6 linked regions of the Homo sapiens genome follow. The protein of the gene in region 1 purifies or fractionates together with the protein of each later gene. This does not show direct contact. Each region holds a gene or a part of one and is shown in the gene's direction. Other genes may lie near its edges. The genes, in order: SEPTIN3, RGS3, HSD17B8, MBIP, PCMTD2 and HCN1.

Region 1 (2,673 bases):
TTCTGCCTTAGTCTCCCAAGTATCTGGGACTACAGGTGCGGACCCCGATTTTTGTATTTTTTATTTATCCCCAAAAATTAGCCCAGCTAATTTTTGTATTTTTCGTAGAGATGGAGTTTTGTCATGTTGGTCAGGCTGGTCTTGAACTCCTGACCTCAGGTGATCCATTTGCCTTGGCCTCCCAAAGTGCTGGGATTACAGATGTGAACCACCATGCCTGGTGATTTTATTTTTATTTTTAATAGAGGTGGGGGTCTCACTGTGTTACCCAGGCTGATCTCAAACTCCTGGGCTCCAGTAATCCTCCTACCTTGGCCTCCCAAAGTGCTGGGATTACAGGCATGAGCCACAGCGCCTGGCCCCATGTCTTAATCCTCATTCTGTTCCAACAGTGCTTGGCCAATGATTTGCAAATACTAGGTATTCAATATATGTTGAATTGGATTTGTCATGTAGTGCATGACCTTTTTAAAATGGCTCAATTATTATTTTCTCTGTGTTACTTCCAACCGGATTATAAGCTTCTGAAGAATGGGAAGTGTATCTTAGGCCTTGGCCAGTTTCTCAGACTTGGTATTAGTTTTCTCTTCTATAAAATGGTAAAAATTATAGTCCCTCTTGGCTATTATGCCACAGCGTCTAGAAGGATGTCGTGCCCATTGTAGCTGCTTAATATTTGTTCAATGAATCAAATCCAGTACACCCAAGTGAGCAAATCTCTGGAAGGGTTACAAAAAATGACCTGTCCCATAGCTTTCTCCTAAATGCCTCCGTGACCCAAACAGAAGCTCACCTCCTGGGTGTTGCTGTATTAATGAACTGACTACCTGTTTTGCTTTGTTTTGTTTTGTTCATAGTGGAAAACCTCAACCACTGTGAGTTTGCCCTGCTTCGAGACTTTGTCATCAGGTAAGATGTCTCCCCTCCAGCTGTCCAGACAGCAGGTTGAATTATTTGGGGTCAGGGTCTATCTGTTCAGATTCACCTCCTGCATCTCCAGGTCTCTCTGACAGAGCTTTCTGCCCCAGTTCCAGCTCCTGTTGCAAAATGGAAGGTGCTGTAGAAGAATCCTTAGCTCCTGGGAGTGGTTCCCATTCACTGGGTCCAGTCCCTCGAAGTGATGTGTGTCACCGCCTCCTCTTCCTGCCCCTAATTGCAGCCCTCTTCTTCTCACCCTGTGTCCTCTAGGACCCACCTCCAGGACCTCAAGGAAGTGACACACAACATCCACTATGAGACTTACAGGGCCAAGCGGCTCAATGACAATGGAGGCCTCCCTCCGGTGAGCGTGGACACAGAGGAAAGCCACGACAGTAACCCATGACGACCACTTCTCTGTGTCATCACACATACCCACTTCACACACACACATCCCAAATACCACCACCAACCACCTTCTTCCTCTCAACTCTGTCCCACAGGCCTGTCTGGTATTTGTGGAGCATCTTGTCTGTGTGTGTGTGTGTGTGTGTGTGTGTGTGTGTGTGTGTGACAGAGAGAGAGCGAGAGAGCCTGTGTGTGTGCATGCAGGGGTGAGGTATTTTCACTGCCCTCCCTGGAGAGTCCCTTGTAAGTTTGGCTCCTCCATGCCTGTCCATTATCTGTCTCCTTTCCTTGTGTCCCAAAACAAAGCTGTTTGCCTCACTCAGGAGATCTGGGGGAGGTTTCATTTAAAAGTGCTGGGAGCAGGTGAGCCACAGGCAACTCTTCTCTCGGAACCTGCACACAAACTGGGGCTATAGAGATTCTCCAAGGACAGATGGCAGTGGAGCTAGACCTGAGTAGGGGGCAGGGAGTTCAGGACAACCCTCCTGTAAGTTGGGGGTGGTCTGGGGGTAAGGCTGGGGCTTCCTGGGAAAAGGAAGGCCATGAGAAGGCAGAGAAGTAGGCCAGAGCTGGGTTCTTGCAGAAAGCATCAGTGCCTACAAATGGAGCTCCACCCTTCAGTCTGTGTCGTGTTCAGTGTCACAAAGCTACCACCTGTCACCAGAGCCTACTGCTGCTCTCCACTCAACTGGCCTCTGCTGCCAGGCCACTGCCTGTCTCTGCTTCCGACTTTGTCTTCTTTCTCCCTTTCCCTCCTTCCCTCATACATTGCTTTCTCTCCCTCTCCTGCGTGTCTCTGACATCTCTCACTTCCTTTTAGATGAATCTACTTTAGGTTCATTCCTATATTTAGCATTTATGCCCAGTCTACTTCCAGAAATGACTTTAGACTGCCTTTCACATAAAATCACAAAACTACAGGACAGTACAAACAGATTGCCAGAGAAATCTGGGTCAAAGAAAGGAATAGGAAAGAAAGTTTCTGTAGTCAAGCACCTGAACAGGCCCTGAGCTCACAGGCAGCCAATGTAAAGAGGGAAACACAGTGAGTTATGCAGTTCCCAGTGTCCAGTTAAAGGAAGCACACATGCTAGTCATGTGAGACAACCTTTTATTGGGACATCAGGTTCTAGAACTAATTCTAAAGAAGTATCAGAAACAATATACATAATTTGTCTTTCTTAGTAATTTGGCTTCAAAGACAAATTTTTGACCACACCTCCGTTTTCTCCGTCAGACTTCTCTCCCTTCTAAGCAGGCTTCTCTGTTGCTCCATTTGCTTCATACATACTTGACCTCTCTTTTCTATTCCCCATCACTTTTGTGCTGAAGCTAATCATATTTATG
Region 2 (3,534 bases), on another chromosome or scaffold:
TTGACCTTTCCTGCTCCCTGCAGGCTCACTTGGATATGGGGAGGAGGATAGAGACAGGAGCTGGACCCAAGGCCCCTTTAGGGCCCAGCTCTGTATGGAGTCCTAACCACTGGCTGGGTGGTGTTTTTGGTGAGATAATCCAGCTAGCTTTCTGTTCTTTTTATCTGGGGAGGGGCTGTGGGTGTGAGATTGAAAATGCCATGGTTGCTGAGCAGCTGGGAGCAGAGTTTGTATTTTTGCTAACTTTTCCTGCTTCTGACAGGACAGCAGTGCCCATTCTGCCCCCTGTGCGTGTATGTTGGCACGTGCTCATATGTGAGATCGGGTGTTTTCGTGTATATGTACATATGTATAACTTTCCTCTCCCCTACTGCTGATGCCTCACTATGGCTCAGGATTCCTTTGGCTTTGGAATCCAACTTTACAGTGAGGGTTTGGCCTCTTAGCCTCCGGTCTTAGAAAGGGGGAAGACTGGGCCATTATGATCCCATTAGCTCCCCTGAGCCTCTTCTAGAACTGTGATGGGCCATTTTTTCTCATAAAATAGGAATGGGGTTAGGGATGGTGAAGGCAAGTGATATCTAATCTGGAAGGGAGTTCTGAAATTGTCCTGATTTTAAAAAATCACATAGAGAAGCCCCTCTATTTGTTTTAATGACCAGATTGGACTGTGGGTCTTGACTCCTCTGACTGGCAGTGCTTAGGTCCCAGGGAGATGCCCAGAGGGGTCCCTGCCCCCCCACCTGCCTGCTAGGGGATCCAGTGTTTTCTCTCTAGCCCTCCCCCGCTCTCAGGTTCTGCCCTTCAGGCCCCACTCTGTGTTTCCTGCCCTCATGGGGCTGGGAAAAGCAGCCCCTGCGACACTAGCGTCTGGATGGCAGAGTGGTGAGACAGAGAGAGCACTGGTTGGGACATCTAGTAGTCCTTGGTCACCCTGGGGCTATGGGCTAGAAGACTGGGCATGCTGGCTGTCAGAGTGGGGCCAGGAGCAATTGTGGGCTGGACCTAGGGCTCAGGGACTCAGAGTTCAAGATGGTTTCTGTGTTAGAAACCAGTGCAGAATTGAGAGCAGCAAGCTTTTTGTCAGGTCTGAGCTCAAATCTAGCTCTGTTCCTCTTTAGCTGTGGCTTTTGAGCAAGTCACTGTTCCTCTCTGAGCCTTTATCTCCTAGTCAGTAAAATAGGATAATGAAATCCAGCGATGGTGCCATGGGAGTGAATAGGATGATGTGTGTGAAGAGCCTGGCTCAGTGTCTGCTGTGCATATTTATCTAGGAGGTGTTTAATACATGGCAGAATTTGGGGATTACAGTCTAGGCAGGACAGAGGAACAGAAACTAGACAGGAGAGCAGAGGTAAGGGGCTGGCATGGGTGAGACCTGGGAGCAGTGGCTGTTCCTGCCCTGGACAGGAAAGAGCGAGAACCACCCGCAGGAAGGACAGGCTCTGTCAGAAGCCGCCAAGGCCTCGGGGCAGGGCTGCTCCTTTCACCTCCAGGTCAGAGCAGGGCTGAGAGCCGGAGGGTGGAGGGGGTGGCACTTCGAGTCTTATCTCCTTGTCTGTAAAATGGGCATACTCATTCCCCTAGGGGCTGCAGGGATGGTCAGGTTCTTTGGACACTACCCTCTCAATGTGGTCAGTGATCATGGTGGACAGAGTGTAATTCTGCTTCCTCCGAGCTAGGAGGTGAGCTTGCCTCCCGGCACCCTCTCCTCTTCCCCTCCTTCACACTCCCATCTGGCTTGGACTGTGGTCTGGGCTGGCACTTCTTAAGCTGGTGCCCAGGAGGGTGAGGGGCCCCCAGCCCACAGTCCTGCTTGGATGTGGGGTCTGGGTGTGGGAGGAGGAGGCTGTTTTCTTGGAGCACACTCCTCCCCAGACCCCACTCTCCAGTTACTGCCCCATAACTGGCCATCCAGAGCCCAGGGTGCTGGGATGGGTTTTCTATGCAGGGGGCTTTGGCCCTGGATGGGGTAGGGGTGGGGAAGTGCTGGATAGGCTTTGGGACCCCAGCTTGTGCTTGGGTTGAGGGTTGGCTTGTGAGGCCCCTAAAAAATCCCCGCTGGTTCCATGGAGGGGGCCAGGCTCCTGGCGTCTTCCCTGGCCTCAGGCGGGCCCGGCAACTAGTGGCTGCTCCTTTCCCCCAGCTTTCCACACTCGTACCCGCGTTTGTTTTTCTTTCTTTCTTTCCATTTTTTTCTCTTCCTGTCTTAGCTGCGTGTTTTCCCAGAATTCTTATGGGAACGGGGTATTTTCCTGCCTCCTCCCCCTTCCCCTTGTCTGTCAGGTTTCCTGTTTTACAAACTTGCTTTGAATCCAGGCCCGGGGCTGGTGGGAAGCAGAGCCTCAGAGGTCCCTGCAGCTTCCAAGGCCCTTGGTCACTCTGAGCCCCCTCCCACTCACCTTCCTTATGCCTGGCCCTGGGATGGTGGGTAGGTGAATGAGTGCAGGTGCCTAGTCTTGCAGGGACAACCCTCAAAGGAAGGAGACAGAAGTCTCCTGACAAGGCTTGTGCCCTTGACCTTTTCCAAGCTTGCTGAGCTGGCCTTTGTCTCAACTCACTTGGGACACCCTTCCCTGTGCCTCACCAGGGCCCACCCCAAGTCCCAGTTTCTCTAGGGGGTCTCTCGGGACCCCTTGAATCCCTTTTCTGATTTGTGCTGCCTTTAGCAGCCGGAATGGGCTGGCAGACCACCCTACATCCTCCTGTGTGTGGGACACTGCCAGGCTGTCCTCCCTGCATTAGCCTCTGCTGAGTTCCTACCATGTGCCAAGCATGGCGTCCATAGTCGGAGCATAAAGGACTGAGAATGGCCCAGTCCTCCTGCTTTTCTTTAGTGCCCGCTGTGCCCTGCTTCACTCTGGAGAGGTTTGTGTACCCTCGTGCTCCTCTGGGAACCAGAGACCAAGGCTGCATGCCTCTGTATGTCCACAGAGCCTGGCATGCTGTAGGAGCTCAATAATTGTGTGCCAGTTTGAAAAGAGCATCCAGATGGCAAGGCCCTCTCATGGACTTCTGAAAGTAGGAGTTGTGGACCTGTCAAGCACATGGGCCTCAGCAGGCACATGAGTCAGTGGCTAGTTCAGGTTCAGCCAGGAAGCCTATCTGTGACCTTACCTGGGAGTCCTCATGGGATGCCTTGGGGCCCTGGCCACAGATTGGCCCCCAGAACCTCAGCTCTCTTCCTCTGACCCTTGGCCTGAGATGGAGTGAGTGTGTCCCAGTGTTTCCTCCCCTGTGCTCTGGGAGGGCAGTGACCAGGCTGGCCTTGACTTTGGGCCCTTAGCACAGGGCCCGCCCCAGGCTAACGCTCTGTGAACCTCTGTGAGAAAGGAAGAAGGGAGCCAGGAAAACAGTGGATCAAAGGTGAGGCTGAGTCATGCAGTGCTGGTGGGCCCTTGGATCAAGGGCTGGGGCTGCTGGGGCTCAGGATGGCAAAGTTTGCTTTTCCAAGACCTTGTCCATCCCAGGCCCTCCCCACATCAGCCTGGGTTTACTTGCTGAGCTTTGGGCCTTCCTGCTTGGCCCACAACC
Region 3 (4,187 bases), on another chromosome or scaffold:
CTCTTATTAGTTCCAAACAATTCATACTGTCATTGACAAGTCCTCTAGAAATGAGGGGGAAGAAGTTCTGGTTACTTTGTCCTTTAGCTCAGTATTTCTTAAACTGGTCTATAAACCATCTGAATGGTTTAGTGGAGTCTTACACACACACGCCTACTCAATCAGAAAGTCTGTGGAAAGGACCTCTGATCTCTTAAGATTTTTCAGAAATTGTCTATTCTAGACTGCTCCCTCTTCTCTTTTTATTTTGATGTTTAGTTTCCAAATCCATGTCCCCTATACCTATACCCCACCAGCCACTTCTAAACCACTGATAATCTTTAGCTATTGGTGAGTGCCTTTTTCTCTTTTCTGCCCATCAGGCGATGCGTCTGCAACTACTGACAGCAGTAGGGGCACTGGCAGGCACAGCCTGTGCCCTTCTCACTGAAGGAGGAGCAGTGGGCAGTGAAATTGCAGGTGGTGCAGGTCCTGGCTGGGTCCTGCCATTTACTGCAGGTGGCTTTATCTACGTAGCAACAGTGTCTGTGTTGCCCGAGCTGCTGAGGGAGGCATCACCATTGCAATCACTTCTGGAGGTGCTGGGGCTGCTGGGGGGAGTTATCATGATGGTGCTGATTGCCCACCTTGAGTGAGGGGTGGATAAACTACCCCTGCCCCAAACCTCTACCCCTAACTCCAGGTCAGGGGTGCGTAGAGGTTGGGGGCCCTGGCCAGGGACATCTGCCAAAGGAAGGAACTGTAGCCTGGGAGAATGGTTACTTTGGCATTAGGGCCTTCAAGGGCTGGCAGTCTTACAGAGGCTGGAGCGGTGAGAATGAGAGGCCAGAGGGACCATAGTGTTGGGCACTGTCTGACCATGTTGCATTTGGAAGGCTAAATGGGGCCATGAAGAAGGCTGGAAGGGACAGGGGGTGATGGCAGCCTACCTGGTGTCCCCTACCCCACCTGTTCTCGGAGAACCAAGTTGCTACACAGGAAGTTCTCCAAGGTCCAGTTTCCTTTCTCCCACCAGTTGGTGGAGGCTTCAGGGAAGACCAGAGTCCTGGACAGAGAGGGTAACAGGAGGAGTCGGGGATAAACATCAAACATCAATCGTGTGTCCTGATTTGGGAGTGATTGGGGGGATGGGGTGGGAGAGGGTTAGTTGGTATTCTCATGGCCTGATTTTTTTTGTTTCTATTCCTTTTATATCACTGTGTTTGAATCGAGGGGGAGGGGTGGTAACCGGAAATAAAGACCTCCGATCTTCCGCCCCACATGCAGTCTTTGTCTTTTTGGGGGGAATGGGGCCCCTTGTCTTCTCCACACCCGGGGCCCCTAAGCAGCAGTGTCGGGCCACGCCCCCTCGGTGGGAGGTCGGCCTGCGCTGGTGGCCGCAGATGGCCTAAGGCTGGCGGGCCTTTGATTGGCCCCGGCTTTGCCCTTGCCACGCCCCTCTGCGCTGGGATTGGCTTAGTGCTGGGATTCCCACCCACCCACAGCCCGCCATGGCGTCTCAGCTCCAGAACCGACTCCGCTCCGCACTGGCCTTGGTCACAGGTTGAGGGGGTTCTTTCCCCGGGCGGTTTGGGGTATTGGAGTGAGGTCAGGGGCGTGCCCTTGGAGTGCGCGGCCGCTGTGACCTCTGGCCCCTTACCCACATTTTACTTTCTGCCCTGTGACCTCTGATCCCTGCCCTCTCCTCCCCGTGCCCGGTCCGGCGTGTTCTGTCCTACCTCAGGTGCGGGGAGCGGCATCGGCCGAGCGGTCAGTGTACGCCTGGCCGGAGAGGGGGCCACCGTAGCTGCCTGCGACCTGGACCGGGCAGCGGCACAGGAGACGGTGCGGCTGCTGGGCGGGCCAGGGAGCAAGGAGGGGCCGCCCCGAGGGAACCATGCTGCCTTCCAGGCTGACGTGTCTGAGGCCAGGGCCGCCAGGTGCCTGCTGGAACAAGTGCAGGTGAACGCTAGGCCACTTTCCCCCTCTAAAGCTCTGATATTGCCTCCACTGCCCCGGCTTTTTGTGGGGGGTTTTTGATGCGTAACCTCCCCCTCCCATAGGCCTGCTTTTCTCGCCCACCATCTGTCGTTGTGTCCTGTGCGGGCATCACCCAGGATGAGTTTCTGCTGCACATGTCTGAGGATGACTGGGACAAAGTCATAGCTGTCAACCTCAAGGTGGCGATCTCTGAACCTGCGACGTTTGGCCCCCTTAGCCTGGGGAGGGAGTTGGAGGAGGGCTGTCACCCCAGCTGATCTTTTCTCCCTTGTTACCCTTTCCCGCCAGGGCACCTTCCTAGTCACTCAGGCTGCAGCACAAGCCCTGGTGTCCAATGGTTGTCGTGGTTCCATCATCAACATCAGTAGCATCGTAGGAAAGGTCAGGTTGAGTTGGACGAGGTCAGCCAGCCAAGTGGTATAGAGAGGAGAACCCCTCCTTGAGACTCCTGACTCATTCCACATCTCTGACTCACCTATAGGTGGGGAACGTGGGGCAGACAAACTATGCAGCATCCAAGGCTGGAGTGATTGGGCTGACCCAGACCGCAGCCCGGGAGCTTGGACGGTTGGTCAGATGCTTGAGGGTGCTGGGGAGCACCTGGGGGGTCTGAGGGAGGTACCAGCATTCAGCCCTCTCCAGAATCGGCAGCCACTCTCCTTCCCACAGACATGGGATCCGCTGTAACTCTGTCCTCCCAGGGTTCATTGCAACACCCATGACACAGAAAGTGCCACAGAAAGTGGTGGACAAGGTAGGAGGCTGTGGGTGGAGGGCAGAATCATTCAGAGACTCAATCTCTCTGGGCTTCACAGAGAGAGAGAGAGAGAGAGAGAGAGAATACTGGGCACAGTTCCTGGCAAACATTAAATATTCAATGAATGTATGAGAAATGAAGACAAAAAAGGGTCACAGACTCAGTCTTCAAAAAAATCCATAAAAGAAGCTTTCACCCACATGAGTATTTCCTTACAGATTACTGAAATGATCCCGATGGGACACTTGGGGGACCCTGAGGGTGAGCACTGAATGTAGTGGGGTCCCTGGGAAGGGGGCCTGAATGAAGAGATCCCCAAAGTTTGGGGATTTTCTAGGGGACTGGTGGTTGGTGTCTGTGGAGAGGTTTGTGGGGAGGGATGTCTTTGGTGGGAGATTATGGCTGTTTTGGGTCTATGGGAGTGAGCAGAATTCTGCCCTCTCCCCACCATTCTCATAGATGTGGCAGATGTGGTCGCATTCTTGGCATCTGAAGATAGTGGATACATCACAGGGACCTCAGTGGAAGTCACTGGTATGAGGCCAGCATGGGGAGGGAGAGGGCAGAGAAGTAGAACCCAGACTATATGAGAAAGCAAGTAAGGGGAGTCTGGAGCCACTGGGAAGGGCAGAGGTTCCCAAGGCCAGGGACAGAAGTGGGTACCCCCTAGCCCATTTGTGTCTCCACCCATGCATCTGTCCAAATGTTTCTGCCCCTCCCAGGAGGTCTTTTCATGTAACTGCCTCAAGGACCCTGGACTCTGCTCACCCCCCCACCACTCTGCCTGGCCTCCTGCTGATGAGGACTCTAAGTTCCCAGGATACAAAAGGGGTGGCAGTGTATGGTTCAGGAATGCTGAATATGGGAAGCAGGGGTGCTTGTGACCCTAATAAATTCCAAGTCCTCTTCCCTGCCACCTCCGGCTCTTCTTGTGTCCAAGCCCTCAGACCCTTCCCCACCTCCCCCTCCTTTCCCTTTCCCGAAGGATTGTTCCCTTTCTCTGCCTGGTCTCCCAGGGCAACCCCCGCCGCCGGGTGTGAGAGGAAAGAGTATGTGTCACTGTGTATGCGTGACACTCCGGGTCTTTTTGAAGGGAGGGGTTCGTGCGTCACCCCTTTCCACTGGTTCTGCAGCACCAGTCCCCTCCCCCCAACTCCCTGGGTTCTTATGGTCCCCAAGGGTGATTTGTTCATGGCCCCATCTTGGTGTCCAGTCTGGCCTTGAAAGGGGGTCTTGGAACAGGTGGCCCTCCCCCACCCCTCTCCTTTCTCTGAGTCCCCCCCTCCCCTTTCTCTCCACCTTACAATAGCTGCAGCCGGCCTGGGGTCGGATGGGGGGGATTAGGGGAGGGGGCCAGGATTAGGGGAATGAACCAGCCGATGAAAGGGGCTGGAGAGAGCAGGAGGGAGGGGGCTGGGAAGAGGAGGAGGAAGGGGAGGGGGGTCTGCGC
Region 4 (3,534 bases), on another chromosome or scaffold:
TTTCAGAGAAGAGTTTTAGTGATTTACTACTCTCAAATGTAAAATGAGGTTTATGAAAATACTAAGGGCTGAAGCAAAGATCAAATGAGATAATGCTGATCAAACACTTAGCATACTGCTTAGCACATGGTAAAAACCTCATTGGCATTTATTTAGTTTTATAACTACAAAGTAGCTGTATAAACGTGGAAAAGTCACTCTATTCCTCTGATCTTCAAGATGTCTAATTTTAGAAAATGTATTGGTTGTACTACATAATTACAAAGGTCTTTTCACTTTTAGGATTATTCTTTGAATGTCTTCCTAGGAGACTTCATAAAGATTTTTAATGACTTTTCCTACAGTAGTCTACCATAAGTTTTTCCCATTCTAACTGCCTTCATTAAAGAAGGCAATAACCTAGGAAAGTTATTTTTCTAGTTCAATTTCATACCTTGTTAATATAATTCTTATTAACGATAGAACCGATCTTACAATAGAGTATGGTAAAATCAGATGCCTCCAATGAGAACTTGCTGCAGCATCATTCCTCTCTTCTCTCTGATTCTGATTTATAAAAACTTAACAGAGGCCGGATGCAGTGGCTCACGCCTGTAATCCCAGCACTTTGGGAGGCCAAGGTGGGCGGATCACCAGAGGTCGGGAGTTCAAGACCAGCCTGACCAACATGGAGAAACCCCATCTCTACTAAAAATACAAAAAAATAAAAAATAAAAAAAATAAGCTGGGCATGGTGGCGCATGCCTATAATCCCAGCTACTTGGGAGGCTGAGGCAGGAGGATCGCTTGAACCCAGGAGGCTTAGGTTGCGATGAGCCAAGATCACGCCATTGCACTCCAGCCTGGGCAACAAGAGCAAAACTCGGTCTCAAAAACAAAAAAAACAAAACTTATAGATGTGTTTAACAAAAAAAAAAGCCCTCCACATCATAATCTTTTTGTTTTGTTTTGATCTGTTACAGATAGGATAGAGTGGGTAAAGAGGTAGAAGTAGCCAGATTGTTAGGACCTTAAGTGCTATGCTCAGAAGTTTAAAATCTATTTTCCAGGCAGGCAGCAGGGGGAATCTACTGAAAGCATTTGAGCAGAGAAGTGATTTGTGAACACGATATTTAGAAAGATTTATCTAATACAGTTGTGGGAGACAAACGAGAGAAACTAAGGATAAGGAGATAGTATTATGCTAGCTTAGATGTGAAGTTAGTTCCTAAAATAGGGACATGAGTGAGAATGGAAAAGATTAATGCAAGTAGGAAAAAAAATGGACAAATACTGATGATTGGATGTGGAAAGAGACAGAGAACAAGGATAGAGTCCAGTTTCTGGTTGGAAAAATGATACCATCATTGATAGAAATAAGAAAATCTAGAGAGAGAGATACTTTTGTGGGAAATGTGAATTTGAAGGCAGAGGAGGTTATGAAGGTAAAAACATCAGGTAAGCTTTTTGAGATACGGCACTTACACTTGGGACAATTGGGAGAGTCTGTGTAGTGTGAGAGTCCATTGATGGATAGGAACACAGATTGTCTGAGGCCTGAAGTCTGAAGCTTGGTGACTGCCTAATTTCAGGGGCAGGAAGCATTTGTAAATGTAAACAGAGGATTGGCATATATGTATTAAGCATTCAGAAAAGGATGGATGGTGGCAACCTGTGATAAAACAGGTGATTTTTAAAAGTATTTCCAAATATGTTAAAAAAAAAAACTATATATCTTTTAGAAGAACTGCAGTTCTTCTGGATTAGTGTTGTAAGTGACACATTAAATTAGTAGTGAGCTACAAGGAAGAACAAAACACTGGAAAGTTTAAACATTCAGACTCATTCTGTCCTTTAGGCCTGTGAACATACATGACACAAGCCCTATGGGAAAGAAGATTTCATACTCATCACCCTTCTATAATAGGATGAATGAGCCATCTTTAGGAACCTCACTTGGAATACAGTCAGCTCTAAGAGTGTCCTTGCAAACAGGAGAAGTTGAGCACATACCTTACAGAGGACATAGTACATTATTCATCACCCTCACCATCATGCTGGGAGTACATGCATGGTAATTGCATAATTTTACATATTTATCCCTCAAAAGTATACAGAAGAAACTACATATGTAGCACAGTCCTATAGCTTCTAAAGATAGGAAAGGAAAGTTGAGCCCATTCAGTTTATTAAGGATTGAACTTTTGTTGGAACTCCTGAACTCTGAAAAGATTTTCATTGAAATGTGTTTATTCAGATTCACATGTAGATGAATTCTAAACATGGGGGAGCTTCTTACAATTGGATAGAGATTGATTATCATGGGTAACATTGAAGCGTAGCATAGAAAAACAAATATTTATGGGGAAAAAAGATGTCATTTGTATTTGTTTTATAAAATGTAATCAGATTATGTAAAGTTCTCATTTTACGACCAGACATAAAACTCCAAAATAAGTTATATGTGTATAAAACAGGATTTATGACAAAAGTTAATAATACTTGTTGGACATTTTGATATAAGAGTTCTAAAGATCTTTATTCTTCACATTAGCCATGGAAAGCTTTAAATGTAATGTTTTCAAAAGTTTAAGGGCATGGCCTTAACAGTCCATTTAAAAGAACGATCTTAGAGTATTTCCAAAGACTTACTGATTTTAAATTATGATACTTGAAAACAGTAAGTACCAACATGCTTTTACAAGTATATTGTTTAGTTTATAGCATTTATCACTCATATGTTTATACATGTTTTTCACTTTATATTTTGAAACTCTCAAGGGCAGGAACTATGTCTTGTTCATCTTTGAGACACAGAATGTAGTCAATATCGAGTAGATGTGCAAATGAATGGATAGGACTTGGCTGATAGCTCATTATTGGACTTTGAAGGTGTGTTAACTTTGTTCAAAGCACTGACTGAGAGTAATTTTTAGTCTGTAACAGTAACTCCTGGTTCTTAAGGGAAGTATCGGGGGAGGGGAATGCTGAAAATCAGGTCAACATCATGTACACAGGCCATGTGCGTGTGAACGTGTGGTGGGTCTGAAGCATGAGTGAACAACTGGATTCAGCTAGAAAATTAGATTGTAAACATATTTCAGAGGGCCTTGAAGGTCACACTAACCAGTTTGCACTTCTAGTATCATTGGAGCACAATTAAGTTTTAGAGAAAGAGAGAAACTTGTAATTTAGGTCCCTGTCTGGTGGCATTATGAAGTCTGAGTTGGAGAGAAATTGGAGTCAAGGAAACTAGTTTAGGAAACATGTCATTATCCAAGCCAGAGAGAAATGAAGGTCTGAATCAGGGCTCTGGGACTAGAAGGGAAGAAAAACATTTTAGATACTGCACGCATAGAATCAGTTGCCTTTTACAACTGAAAGAAAGCAAGCCAGTCATGGAAGAGGCCTCCTTACCCTTGAGTTTCCTTAGAGCACTGGTTCCCTGGATTCATATGTGTGTGTGCATGTGCGTGAACGTGTGTATGACAGTCATGCTCTGCATAAGGATGTTTCAGTCAACAGTCAACTGCATATATTACAGTGATCCCATAA
Region 5 (3,534 bases), on another chromosome or scaffold:
GTCTGGCTAACGGAGCCAGACTCCATCTCAAAAAGAAAAAAAAAAAGTAAGCCTGAAATGGCCTTGCTGTACTTGACATCCCCTAGAAGTTATAAGGAAAGGCCTTCCAACTTGATACAGTTGCTTTTCTTTCCTGAATCCCCTGTTTACTGGAAATTTCATTGGATTTTGGGAGGAGAGAGGTCTGAAGGAAGGAAAGGCCTGTTTTCTGCTGTAATGGATGTAACATGCTGCTTTGATGCAGTTGAAGGAAGTGACTTCAGGGTTTGCTGTCATGGATGCGTGTCTTGGCTGTGTCTCCAGATGCTGCAGCTTTTATTCAAGCTTAATAGCACTTGGTGCAGAGCACTCCAGAGTGAAACCTCATTGGCTTCCCGGCGCCTGTGGATGTGGGTCTCTCATCTGACGGAGTTCTTTACTGTGACCCCCGACTGCCTTTCGCATGGCCTGAGCGGCATCCTGGGTCAGCCCTGTTCCTGTGCTTGCTCTGTGGGCTCCTCTCCCCTTTGCTCAGGGCTGTCCTTACCTTTGTTTGTCATCAACCAGGGGAGAATACAGTAGCTACTAAGAGATGGTGGCTCATAAGTCACCTACCTGAAAAGTGCTGGGTGATTCGGAAGCAGGGCAGACCTAGGAGCGGCTCTGCCAGGGGGGCCTCGCTGCTCTGGTTTCATGCCGTGCTCCAGTGCTGAGTCCCAGGTGCCGTGTTCCTGACACCCCCCGGCCACCCTGTGTCCTCCTCCCCTGCTAGTCATCTTTGTATTAAGCAGGTGGGTCGAGGTATTTGTGTTACTACTGTTTGGTGTTAAGCTTCTTGGGAATAGGAACCATATCTCATATCTGTTACTAGAATTAACTGCTTATTAAGTGTTTGATAGTGAAGGTGAGGGGTCAGTGAAAATAAGATGAGTGGGAAGAATCAAGCGCTATTTTTGGTCTCTGGCAGAGTCGGGAATTGAAGTCGGAGTTGTCAGAAGGTCTTGACGTTCAGAGTAATTCAGGATTTGATGTTGTAAACAGTGAAAAGGGGAACTCTCAGGTAGGGTGTATTTTGACGAGGTAATGTTTTAGCAGCAGCTCTGTGTATGAAATACGTGGAGAGAAAAGAGCAGCAGGTACAGTTGTCCAAATGGGGGCCAGGGAAGCCTTGGCCTGGGCTGGTGGCTGTTGTACTAGGAGGGCCCACACGGTGCAAAGGTGTGGGATGCACAGAAGGTTGCCCATTTCTTAGCATTTCTGTTAGATTGTAGGGTCCAGTGCTACATGATCACTGTAGTAGTATATCTGTCTACCAAGTAAAGTCCTACGTGCCTTGTGATTTTTACATGTAGATTTAAAAAGTTGACGTGTAACTTACCCATAGTAAATGAACAAGTGTGAAGTGTGAATTCTGGTGGACTTTTACATATGCATCCACCGCCATATAAACTCCAGCCACAGCAAGATGCAGAGTTGAATCAGCACCCCAAAAGGCTCCCATGCCCCCTCCTCCTCCTAGAAAGTTCACCAGTGTTGCATCTTCCAGAAAGGTGATGACCGTTTTGCCTTTGTCGGCAAAGATGAATTTTGCCCGATTTTTACCTTCATGTAAGTGGATTCCCGCAACAGAGAGACCCATTTAAGTTGAGTGTCAATACTGTGTTCCCAGTTAACGTAGGGGCAGTTTTATATCGGGGGAGCACTGTCATCATTAAGTGGACTTGTAACATTTCTCAGTTGTATTTCAAATTACTGATAAATATCCTTTGATATAAAAATGTTTCATTGTGACTTGGAAGCATAGTTTTATCTTAATGATGATGATTGAACCCTGTTTTGTGAATATTATAATGCTCACATCTGAGTGTTCTGGGCAACTTTTCAGGGAAAACAGAATCGTCTTAAATGTTACCTCTGGACAAACAGGTGAGGCCTGTGTCAGTTCCATTTGCAAATACATGTTTCTTCTTTAGTTCATTAGTAAGACCTGAACACTTGGTTTGTCTCCATTTTCAAATGATTCTTTAAAAGTTTGTGAGCAGAGAAGCCCAGGCCTCAAGTATTTACGATGTGGTGAGCCGTGATACTGTGATGAGACTTCAAAACTTTGTGAATGTCTGTAGTTACACATGTTAAGTCAGACGTGTTACAGTTGGTAGAAGTGAACAGATGAGCAAGAGTTCTTACTCTGGTTCTACATGTTTTCTTATTCTTAAACCTTTTAGGTCCTTTTGGTGTGAACCATGGGGTGGAACTTCACTCAGATGTGATAGAGTATGCAAAGCAGAAACTGGACTTCTTCATCAGAACAAGTGATAGTTTTGACAAGTAAGATGAAATACTATCCATTGGCTCAGATGATGTGAACTGTAATTTTACAAAGTTTTGATCAGATAGAAAGAAATCATGTGGTAGGAAACATAATTAAACTGTGGTGGGATGATTCTATGTGCCTGTTCTAATTTTCAGAAAAGATTCTGTGTTTTGAGGGTTTTAGGGTATTTCAAACTGTTACACATACATAAGGTGTTCATTTGCTCAATATTCATGTTTCCTGTTGAAGACAACTGTTTACCACCTAGTTTTTCCTAAAATAAAATTGTTGCATTTGTCTCTAAACAGTATATGTAACTAGCTTTTGCCATTTTAAAAGAAGGCATTAAAGTTCTTATTTTAGGGATTAAAATTTTTAGAAACACCAAGTGCAGTTTCACCACCCCCACATCTCACTCATTGTGTAGTATTAATAGATCTTACATAAGATGATAAGAAGATGACAGAGACAGCAGCGACTGGAGATTGTGTGAAATTTGGATAAAACTTTTGATATTCACTTTCATACTATTTTGTTTGGTATTTCTAGAGTTCTAGTTATATAGTATAATTCTTTTTGGAAGTAATTCTTGGACATTTGTAATTCTTTTCTTCCAGCTCCTCACACTGTAAACTGTGTTACATTGCTGTGGGATTTTAACCTGTGGTTAGCATAGATTTACTGTATAGACTTGTTGCAATGTGATACTTTTAGTTGCAGGAAGCATTTTTTACTTCCAGGTTTGACTTCTGTGAACCTTCCTTTGTTACTGGGAATTGCCTGGAGATTTCTCCGGATTGTTCTCAGTATGATCGTGTATACTGTGGGGCTGGCGTGCAGAAAGAGCATGAAGAGTACATGAAGAATCTTCTCAAAGTGGGAGGGATCCTTGTCATGCCACTGGAAGAGAAGGTCAGATTCCCTTCATAACTGACATTTCTGCACACTGTGTGCCAAGGTCTGTTCTGGGCAGTGTACGGATACTTACTCTTTTAACAATTTCCTGCATTTCACAAATGAGGAAACAGAGGCAGGGACAGGTGAGGGAGATGCAGGGTCACGCACATGCCCTAGCTGGGGCCAGAAGCTGACTCAGGTGGGTGCTTCAGAGCCTGCACGTGAAACGCTTTTCTCCACCTTCCTTCTCTGTCTCTCTCTTTTTCCTTCTTCTGTCCCTTCCCCCTCACCTCCCTCTTCCTTCCCCTTCTCCTTCCCCCCAGCTGTTCTGAGTTTTAATTCTA
Region 6 (3,534 bases), on another chromosome or scaffold:
ATGGATGAATACAACATACATTTAGGTGTGAGAACTAAACAGCCTTGGTGATCAATTGGATATGGGTTTGAGCAGATTTAGGGCCAGGAGTTATTTAGGATGGCTCCATGGTTTCTGGCTTGCAAATCACACATAGAGTTATTCCATTCCCTGAGATAGGGGATATGTGAGGAATATATGTGGGAGAGGAGATTATGAGTTTGAGCTTAGGCATGCTGTTTGAGATGAGTGTGAGATATGCCAGGAGAGAGATTTAACGGGCTACTGATTATGAGGATTAGGAGGCTTAGAAGATAGGAATGGACTGAAGATAAAGCTTTTGGGGTCATCAGTTACAAATTAATTATTAAAGGCATGGATAAGTGTATAATATTTCTCAAGGGCAATGCGTAGAATAGAAGATGAAAGGGCTATGTGTGACACCCAGGGGAACAACAGCCTTGAAGGGGAGGGCAGAGAGAGAAGCTTACAGAAGGGACTTGATAGGAGTGCCCAGAAGTGAAAAATCCTCAGGGTACACACAGTTTCATTTTAGAGTTTAGTGGTGCCATTTCTTTGTGAAATAGCTGTTACAATATTGCTCCTCCTCTACATCTCTCCTCTGTCCTTATTGTGTTGAATGGTATATTTTGCATTTCCATTGTGAGAAGATATAAAACCATTTCATTTAAACTGCCAGTACATGTTGTATGGCTGACATGGGTATTTGTACAGTTGTTTCAAAAATTGCAGGCAAGTTTTGACAGAAATACTGGTGAAATCTTCAAAATAACAAACGCTTATCCTTTACAACATCCTGAGGCTGGAGACAGGGGAGATAGGGCCTATTATAGTTTTTTCTTCAACTAGTACTTTTATTTCAGGAGTCATTCTTAATTACAGATGATAGTAACTTTGAAAGCTTTATACACATGTATACCTCACCAAAATGTAGCTCAAATAGTCTAAGTAGGAGTATTCATGTAAAACAAAAATATCTTGGTAAACAGACATTTTTATCATGGAAGTTTATATTGTTTATACAAAACTCCTCAAATAACATACCTATGACTAGGATAAAGTAACTCATGTTTCTGGATACATTTCATGATTATACAGTTGTGTTTATTTTTTCATTTTTGCAAGTATATACTGTAACAACTATAAATATTTGATTAATAGGAGTGTCAACAGACTGAAAGAACCCTTATAAAAATAACACTATAGTTATGTCAAGTGAATTTAGTTAATTTAGTTAAGCTATATAAACCAGCAATGAAGTTCCTGGTTTTCTCTCAATTTTAATGTAAGTTGAGATAAGAATATTTCAAAAGGTACTTAGTAGTCATAGGCATGTTCAGAATTAAATTAGAAATGTTAAAGATTTTTTTTTAGCTGGGCATGGTGGCACGCCTGTAATGCCAGCTACTCGGGAGGCTGAGGCGGGAGGAGAATCACTTGAACTTGGGAGGCGGAGGTTTCAGTGAGCTGAGATTGTGCCATTGTACTCCAACCTGGGCAACAAGAATGAAACTCCGTCTCAAAAAAAAAAAAAAAAAAAAGAAAGAAAGAAAGAATTTTTATGGAAAAGTAGTGGCAATATATTTGAAGTAGTTGTTCAATAGAGTAGTAATAAAAACACAAATTTTAGGTAGATTCTAGTTTCAAATATGGAGTAGAACTTGCTCAGTTCTTTTTAGCATCAGACCAAAATTAGTTTTCTTATTTCAAGCAAAAGAAAAATAAAGCATAAAATATTTGGAGTACTGCAAAACTCCAGTGTATTCTAGATTCCATGGCAAAACTAATCTGTATTCCTTGAGATAAATTTGCATAACTAAAATTGTTAGAGTATCCTATTTATTTCTGGGTTTTTTTTTCTAATCTATGATTGGTAAATTGACATCTAAAATAATTCAAAACATCTTCAAAGAGCCTTCCCAAAGGCTTTCTTACAGATCTTCTAATCTTATACTTCTTTCTAGTTTCTGTCTATATTTTGTATTAAGTATAAGGTAGGTTGCTTTTTTTGCCTCTTTACTAAATAAATGGGGGTATGAATGTTTTTGATTTTATTTGTATAATGCTTCATATCACATAATTTTTAGAATTCCATAATCATAATGCCTTGGTTTAAGAATATATTAATTTTACTTAGATTTAAACATATAGCCATTTAAGGAATTACATTTTTAAAAAATAAAATCATTTCTTTGTTCTTTTACTTATTGATCTCACTATATATCAGTAATAATTTTTCATGGGGGGGATAGGCTGGTTATTTTCTATATCTTAAAATCTGATTTTTTTATTTGTTGTAGGTTTTACTGGGATTTAATAATGCTTATAATGATGGTTGGAAATCTAGTCATCATACCAGTTGGAATCACATTCTTTACAGAGCAAACAACAACACCATGGATTATTTTCAATGTGGCATCAGATACAGTTTTCCTATTGGACCTGATCATGAATTTTAGGACTGGGACTGTCAATGAAGACAGTTCTGAAATCATCCTGGACCCCAAAGTGATCAAGATGAATTATTTAAAAAGCTGGTTTGTGGTTGACTTCATCTCATCCATCCCAGTGGATTATATCTTTCTTATTGTAGAAAAAGGAATGGATTCTGAAGTTTACAAGACAGCCAGGGCACTTCGCATTGTGAGGTTTACAAAAATTCTCAGTCTCTTGCGTTTATTACGACTTTCAAGGTTAATTAGATACATACATCAATGGGAAGAGGTAAGATGCATCTTTTTCTTTTTTAAATCTATATCATGAAATTGTTAATTATGGCTGTTTTACAATGAACAACTGTGCAATGTGTAATGAGTTTTATGAAATTCAAGTAGAAAAATGTATTCGACGACTCTTTTCCATGCATAAGTGATATATTTGTATCCCTAAAATATATGATCAAATAATGGATTTGAATGAACTGAAAAAAATAGTGATCGTTTTATGCCAATTTATTTTATTTTTAAATAAATGCACTTTAATCAGCAATTATTATCTTGATCAATACAACCCCTTTCCCACCTTGGTTTTTTTTAATCTAATATAAATACATCAAGTACCATTATTTTGATAAAGATGTGTAGGGTCTGATTGCTAATCTGGCACATCATTAGCTCTGTGAGATAGTGTGGTTTTTGTATCCTCTAATATTGAAGTTTCATTGAATTCATGATTGGGTAAAACAGATTGTTTCTTTATTTCCAAATTGTATATATAAAGGCTTTGATTTTAGCATATTAATTTTGCTTATTGTTATGCCTTGCCTATAGTAACTTATTTTAGTTTCTCCCTATTAGTTCATTTCATAATACTAAAAAGGAACATATTCATGAGGGACATTAGTACATAGAAAACACAAAGAGTATAGTGAATAAATGGAGTGAATCTGACCAATCAGGCCCATATTTTGCTGAATAGAGCATCTGTTGTTAGGCAGTGGGTGGGACCTGAGAGGGCTCAGCCAACTGGAGTTTCCAAAGATCTGAGTTAAACCATCATCAAGCAAAGGAGTTCATATCCCTATCTTCAAAGTCT

The links.
Region 2: the proteins of SEPTIN3 (region 1) and RGS3 purify together in Homo sapiens (co-immunoprecipitation; one large-scale study listed by IntAct). This does not show direct contact.
Region 3: the proteins of SEPTIN3 (region 1) and HSD17B8 purify together in Homo sapiens (affinity purification with mass spectrometry; 4 studies listed by BioGRID and IntAct, with this or other methods). This does not show direct contact.
Region 4: the proteins of SEPTIN3 (region 1) and MBIP purify together in Homo sapiens (co-immunoprecipitation; one large-scale study listed by IntAct). This does not show direct contact.
Region 5: the proteins of SEPTIN3 (region 1) and PCMTD2 purify together in Homo sapiens (affinity purification with mass spectrometry; 2 studies listed by BioGRID and IntAct, with this or other methods). This does not show direct contact.
Region 6: the proteins of SEPTIN3 (region 1) and HCN1 purify together in Homo sapiens (co-immunoprecipitation; one large-scale study listed by IntAct). This does not show direct contact.

What each region holds. Positions count from the first base shown.
Region 1 is NC_000022.11:41,993,433-41,996,105, forward strand, and holds part of SEPTIN3 (neuronal-specific septin-3), read left to right. Parts: intron 1-857; coding exon 858-909; intron 910-1,188; coding exon 1,189-1,282; coding exon of another isoform or gene 1,283-1,324; exon of another isoform or gene 1,325-2,673. UniProt on the Homo sapiens protein: Filament-forming cytoskeletal GTPase. May play a role in cytokinesis.
Region 2 is NC_000009.12:113,501,727-113,505,260, forward strand, and holds part of RGS3 (regulator of G-protein signaling 3), read left to right. Parts: intron 1-3,534. UniProt on the Homo sapiens protein: Down-regulates signaling from heterotrimeric G-proteins by increasing the GTPase activity of the alpha subunits, thereby driving them into their inactive GDP-bound form.
Region 3 is NC_000006.12:33,203,179-33,207,365, forward strand, and holds HSD17B8 ((3R)-3-hydroxyacyl-CoA dehydrogenase), read left to right. Parts: upstream 1-1,476; 5' UTR 1,477-1,490; coding exon 1,491-1,542; intron 1,543-1,723; coding exon 1,724-1,941; intron 1,942-2,042; coding exon 2,043-2,159; intron 2,160-2,268; coding exon 2,269-2,361; intron 2,362-2,461; coding exon 2,462-2,547; intron 2,548-2,649; coding exon 2,650-2,734; intron 2,735-2,955; coding exon 2,956-2,998; intron 2,999-3,196; coding exon 3,197-3,271; intron 3,272-3,459; coding exon 3,460-3,476; 3' UTR 3,477-3,653; downstream 3,654-4,187. Other genes in the region: zinc transporter SLC39A7 isoform 1 precursor, read left to right, coding at 363-635. UniProt on the Homo sapiens protein: Required for the solubility and assembly of the heterotetramer 3-ketoacyl-[acyl carrier protein] (ACP) reductase functional complex (KAR or KAR1) that forms part of the mitochondrial fatty acid synthase (mtFAS).
Region 4 is NC_000014.9:36,303,608-36,307,141, reverse strand, and holds part of MBIP (MAP3K12-binding inhibitory protein 1), read left to right. Parts: intron 1-3,534. UniProt on the Homo sapiens protein: Inhibits the MAP3K12 activity to induce the activation of the JNK/SAPK pathway. Component of the ATAC complex, a complex with histone acetyltransferase activity on histones H3 and H4.
Region 5 is NC_000020.11:64,262,225-64,265,758, forward strand, and holds part of PCMTD2 (protein-L-isoaspartate O-methyltransferase domain-containing protein 2), read left to right. Parts: intron 1-2,204; coding exon 2,205-2,307; intron 2,308-3,033; coding exon 3,034-3,205; intron 3,206-3,534. UniProt on the Homo sapiens protein: May act as a substrate recognition component of an ECS (Elongin BC-CUL5-SOCS-box protein) E3 ubiquitin ligase complex which mediates the ubiquitination and subsequent proteasomal degradation of target proteins.
Region 6 is NC_000005.10:45,644,375-45,647,908, reverse strand, and holds part of HCN1 (potassium/sodium hyperpolarization-activated cyclic nucleotide-gated channel 1), read left to right. Parts: intron 1-2,300; coding exon 2,301-2,724; intron 2,725-3,534. UniProt on the Homo sapiens protein: Hyperpolarization-activated ion channel that are permeable to sodium and potassium ions. Displays lower selectivity for K(+) over Na(+) ions.